Linked DNA regions of Homo sapiens: region 2 is linked to region 1. The links come from fine-mapping of genetic effects on gene expression. A gene starts in region 1. The other region holds a variant in brackets. All regions are shown on one strand. Distances are from middle to middle.

Region 1 (2,902 bases):
GAGACACCGCGCATCATGGCTCTGAAAATCAGCCAAGTGGCCGGGACGTCAAAGCGGCAGAGCAATCAGAATGCCCTGGAGCCGGGGATGGAGGGGCCACATTGTTTGAGCCCTCGGATTTTGCTGCATTGTCACCGCCCGGGAACGTGGGGGTAGCAGGAAGCGCACCTCCAGCCAAAAATGGACCGGACGCATTCCCCCCCCCTCCCCGCCCCGGCAGCTCCCTCCCTGCCTGTCTGCAAGTCGCAATACGGTAGGCGACATGACTGCTCCCGCTAAAACTCAGGTGGCAGGCCCGGCTGAGCGGCGCAGCCGGCCGGTAACAGGGAGGCGCTGGGGGAGCACCCACACAGCGCCTCCTCCCCTCCTGCACCCGTCCATGGGAGCAAGGGCCGGACCTGGCCACGCGCCCCTCGAGCGAGCACCGGCGAGCCCGTGCGGAGGCTCTGGGCGCTCTCTGGGCTAACCACGGGCATTGCATGGGACACAATTGTTCAAAAGCGAGCCCAAGGCGAAGCGCAAATCCAGAGCTTTGGTTCACAAGGGGTGGGTGTGGGCTGGGAAGGGGGATTACGTAGGTCTCTCCGCCCCCTCCCCTGACACCTCCTCGCCACTGGGAGGGCGCTGAGGGGCGGGGGAGGCGCTGCGAACCCGCTTGGGGGCTTCTTTGTTTCTCTCCGTACCCCGCAGGAGGGCCGGGTGCGCCTGCAGTACCCAAGCCGGGGTCGCCACCCGGGGATGCCGGCCCGGACCGGGCGGCGGCGCGACCCAGGCTGACAATTGAACCTCGCGGGAGAAGCGAGAGGGTGGGGAGGAGGGTGGATCTCGGCCCCGAGAAGGGAGGGCGCTGCCGGGGCCTCGCGTGCGGCGGGGAAGCCGCCCAGAGAAGGGCGGGGGGGAAGGGGCGGCAGACAGTGTCCCCGCGCTACGCCCGCTTACCTTGGCAGCCCTGGCCTGGGCACAGATCATGCTCCTGTCAGCGCGCAGATTAGAGCTGGGGGGCGCACGTGCCCCGCATAGTGCACCGGGCGCCTGGGACTGGCTGGGGAGGGGACCCTGGCGACCGCCCGCTCTCGCTGCGCTCTGGCTGCCGGGTGCCCCGAGAGAGCGGAGGCCACGGCCACTGTCACGGCGGAGGGGCGCGCGCGGCTCGGCGAGTGTGTGCGCGAGGAGGGGGCCGGTTCGGTCAGAGTCGCACGGTGTTCCGGCTCCAACAACAGCGCCTGATGCGCGGTAACGCAGCACACTTCATCGCTTTATCCTCCCGCTTGCATCCCCTCCCTCCCTGCCTGCTCCTCTGTGGGTACCAGACTCCAGAACCAACCACAAGCCGGGCTTGCTCTCATTAGCGCTGCCCCGCCCTGCAGCCTCCGCGCACCCCCACCCCCGCCCCCGCGGTAAATATATATCGATTCTTGTTACCGCCGGCCCCATCCTTCCAACACCCAGCACGCGTACTGGGCATATCCAACACCAACCCTGGCTCCTCGGCCCTTTTGTGTGTGTGCAAACAGTGTAGCAGAAAGGATGCGGTACAGACACTCTAGGCGGGTACCCTGTGACAGGTGTTCTTGGCCTCTGTCTTAGACACTTTCCTCGCTTACCTTACACACAGTTAAGAACGCTCAGAGACACATTTCAGGAACCGTCCTGTATTTGCACAAGCACACAAAACATCGTAATGACAAATGCAAAGGATGAAAATCACCCCAGAATATCTATTGTTGGGCAAACCTAGCTCCCAAACCGCGTTTTCTATTACACTGCACACAGTGTCAGAATGCTAGAACGAGAAGGAGGCAAAGTCTAGACCCTTCCAGGTACAGCCAACTGAGATGCAAAGAGAAGTGAAATGCTGGTTACTATTGGTGGTTGGCTGCTCCATGTATGCACATTTTTGTGCATCTGGTCGACATTTGGTTTGTGTGTGTTCACATAAAATGCAGAGGCTTTGAGCACATAATCTCTATAGCCTGGGATTTTATGATCCAACCACATTCTCTACAATGCTGATTTATTCCTTCCCATTATTTTGCCCAGCATCCTCTACATGAGCTTTTTTTCACTTTCTGAGAAGTTATCTTCTTTCCCAGACCCCAAACTCCGCCTCCTCTAGAATAAACAAAGGCTTCACCCTGACTTCAGAACTCCTTACTGAAGACCTGAGTACGGACTTGTCAAAACCAAATCTCCTTCCCCTTCCACCCACAGTGGCTAGTTTCTCAGTGCCTCTCATTCCACTGACCTGCCTCTTGGCATTGATTTCACTCTTACAACTGGAACTTTCCAGAACTGGAAACTTTGGACGATGTGAAGGCAGCTTCACCAGCTGTGCTCTTTTCTGCAAGGAGGCACAGCCCTTCTCTTTCCGTATTCCACTTGGGGTGCCCAGTCCTTTCCTGACAGACCCTTTTCTTTGCCTGACAGCAGTCAGATCTTCTGGTCAGATGAGCTCAAAGCAGACCATTTTCAAACCTTAGCTAAGAATCCACACAGAAAGCTGTGCACACATTTCTCCGGATTTTACACTTGGATTAGTACCAACTCCTATATGAAGAAAACTCTCCGAGAATAGACTTGAACAGGCTGTGGCAGTAAACAGCAACAGCAACCAACCATGTGATGTTTCCAACCAGAGACTTGAAAGAAAACAAAAACTTTCACATAAACCAGCATCCATGGTTTCTAAATTAGCACAATGTCACCAAACCACAATAAAGGATAATTTTTTTACCTCAACTAATTGCCAGGATGTTCACCTCATTATTTTCAGTGAATCAGCATCAACTTGGCTCAGAGATGTTTGCTCTCTGTTCTATCCATCATGGAGATGACTTGACAAGTCCACATCTCTCATAGAGGTTATTGATGTAGCAATCCTTGTGGTGTGCTTTATCCTCCC
Region 2 (2,902 bases), 140 kb before region 1:
CAGGGTCTGTCATCGAATTCAGAGTAGTTCATGAGGCTGCTGTGGACCAGAGTGACCCAGCATAATCCCTATCCAGAATTTTAAGACAAATACAATGCTACCAAATCCAGTTTTATTTTGTATTTCTGTGTGTGTGTGTATGTGTGTGTGCGCGTGTGTGTGTGTGTGTTTTGGTTAAAAAAAATCTGCAAGAGAGGAAGAAAAATACACATCCATCCGTGGCGTATATTCAGCTGTGATCATGAAAATACTGAGTTATTGTCTGAAATCGTGTAAAGCAAGAACCTGCATTAAGAAAGCATAGCTAAGCAAACAGGCCCGGGACCCATATCTGCTGACATACCGTGCTATCCTGAGACTGCCGCAGAACATTTGCAAAGCCGTGTTCTCTAAGAATTCTGCACAGTGCAAACAGGCATGAGGGGAAAAAATACTACTAGGGAACTTCTAGTTCTTGCTGAAAAGGAAAATTTTGAGCTCTAAATCTAGCACTACCAAGCAAGAGAGGCATCTGTGGCTGCATATAAAGCTGGTACTCCTTTGCTTGAACAAAATCCCTCAGTATACAGTACTTAAAATAAACAAAGCTCAAAACAGTCAGCTACACACGCATGTTTTTTGGCCACATGCTGCCTGAAGAAAATAGCTATGCAGTGTGCATGCCCTAGTTTAAACCAAGCCTGAATACCGCACAGTCTCATTCCTCTCCCGGTCTCCTTTTCTAGACAGAAATACATTTCCCTTTAATGTACAAGTGAGAAAAAAATATGTTTAAAAGACAGTCCAGGCCCTTGATAAAAGCACTTACTTTGAAAGAACAGGACAGACTACGTATTCAAAACAAGAGCGCCTTCTTAAAGTGCAGGCTCAGAAGTTGTTCAATGGCCAGGACCTTCATTTGTGCTGGCAGCTCTGGTCCTGCTGGGCATGGTTAAGGGCGAGGCTCGCAGCCCGCACGGCGTGGTCCTTCAGGGGTGCTGCGTCAGGCTGACGCTCCGGAACAGTTACTGGGACAGGCTGTGAGCGACTCACCAGGACAGTTTTATTTCTGTGCTGAGCTTGCTGCTTCCTGCTGGGAAAATGTTAGTGGCGGAGTCACACCCAGGTACCGGGCCGCAGCCAAGGCTCCGCAGATGACCCGAGTTCTGATGGAGGTGGGGACGGGCGGCGCCCGGCACCTAGGGGGCAGAGGGCGAGCAATCCCGGAAGAAGACTCACGCTAGGCGATTGGTCTCCTCACGGGAGCTCCTCGACCCTGCCAAGGGCATGACTCAGCTCACCCAGGGCAGTGCTGGACCACACTATTTATCCCCTAAGGTCCAGGAAAGCCGAGTTCAGGCAATGACTGGCGAAGAGCTAGAGGGGAGGCAGGG[A/C]GGCCCCTAAGTCACTGGGGTCTAGAGGTTGTGGCCTCACATGCACACAGATTCAGCCCCTTTCTCTTTGGTAGCTGTTGCAATAGAGTGGCCTAGGACTCCGACCCTGAAAACTATGAGGAGGGGGAGGGGAAACAGGAGGAGAACGGGGAGATGGGGGAAGAGGGACAGGAGAAGGAGGAGGAAAAGGAGGAGGAGGAGGAGGAGGAGGAGGAGGAAAAGGAGGAGGAGGAGGAGGAGGAGGGAGAGTAAAGCAGCCGGCCTTACAATGGAGGTTCCAAATCAATAAGTGTAGAGAATTAATGATGTCCTGATTTTCTGTTGGTGTCAGGATGACAAACTGCAGAGTTAGAAGAGAGGCTTCTCATGACTTTGTCAATTTATATCTGCACAACATTATAACCAAAAGCAAGCCGGAGATTAGTGGAAGTTTAGGGAAGCTGGCTGTGGTTCTACACCTCTGTCTCCTGATACGTTCTAGACCCAGGATGTGTCTAGATGAAGGATGTGGTGGGGCGGGGTATGGTGTAGGGAACCTCAGGATCGTTTTCAGTTTGGAAGATTTAAGCAAGAACATAAAAGTTCTGGAGCCACAGATTTTCTTTATTGTGTAGAGTATGGGGTGAAGGAGACTGATGTAACAATGCCCATTCTGTGTCAGGAGAGGGGTGTTGCTGTCAGGAGCCCTGGGGCTCCACCTCAGCCCTGCGATCTCTGGGTGATCTCTGATGACACACAACCTCTCTGGGCTCCTCTCTCTTTCTTCTTCTTTCTCTCCTCTCCTCACCTCTCCTCCTCTCCTTTGTCTTTCTCTTCCCTCCCTCTCTCCATTGTTTTCCCTCCCTCCCTCCCTTCCTTCCTTCCTCTCTCCCTCCCTCCCTTCTTGCTTGCTTTCTTCTTTCTCTCTTTCTTTCCTTCCTTCCTTCTTCCTTCCTTCTTTCCTTTCTCTTTTTCTTTCCTTCCCTCCTTTTTTCTCTCTCTTTTTTCCTCTTTCCCTTCCTCCCTCCTTCCTTCCTTCCTCTCTCCCTCCCTTTCTTGCTTGCTTTCTTCTTTCTTTCCTTCCTTCCTTCTTCCTTCCTTCTTACCTTTCTCTCTCTTTCTTTTCTTTCCTTCCCTCCTTCTTTTCTTTTTTTCTCTCTCTTTTTTCCTCTCTTTCCCTTCCTCCCTCCCTCCTTCCTTCCTTTCTTCCTTCCTTCTTCCCTCCCTCCCTCTCCCCTTCCTTCCTCCCTCCCTCCCTCCCTCTCCCCTTCCTTCCTCTCTCTCTCTCTTTCTTTCCTTCCATAGCATCTTGCTCTGTTGCCTAGGCTGGAGTGCAATGGCACGATTATAGCCCACTGCAGCCTCTAACTCCTGGGCTCAAGCAATTCTGCCTCAACCACCAGAGTAACTGTGACTGCAGGTGCACTGCCATGCCTGGCTAAAATTTTATTTTTATTAGAGATGGGGTCTCACCATGTTGCCCAGGCTTATATAGACTGGTCTCAAGCTATCCTCCCGCTATCCCCCTCCCAAAGTGCTGGATTACAGGC

Which allele goes with the higher level. Positions count from the first base shown, and alleles are read on the strand shown. Sizes are in standard deviations (SD) of each study's normalised expression.
With allele A in place of C in region 2, the expression in skeletal muscle of the gene that starts at base 1,230 in region 1 is lower (moderate effect, 0.62 SD a copy in GTEx).

The links. PIP is the estimated chance that this variant, and not a neighbour inherited with it, causes the effect.
Region 2: its variant is fine-mapped to the expression of HECW1 in skeletal muscle (GTEx, PIP above 0.99). The same link has a PIP of 0.9 or more in lung and thyroid.

Annotation. Positions count from the first base shown.
Region 1 is chr7:43,110,975-43,113,876 of GRCh38, reverse strand. It overlaps HECW1 (HECT, C2 and WW domain containing E3 ubiquitin protein ligase 1), which reads right to left and starts at 1,230. Exons shown (of 30, transcript NM_015052.5): 1 at 940-1,230.
Region 2 is chr7:43,247,386-43,250,287 of GRCh38, reverse strand. The region is part of intron 3 of HECW1 (HECT, C2 and WW domain containing E3 ubiquitin protein ligase 1); the gene reads right to left. LOC124901619 (a long non-coding RNA gene) reads left to right here and starts at 990. Exons shown (of 2, transcript XR_007060295.1): 1 at 990-1,105. The variant A/C (reference allele first, on the strand shown) is at 1,374.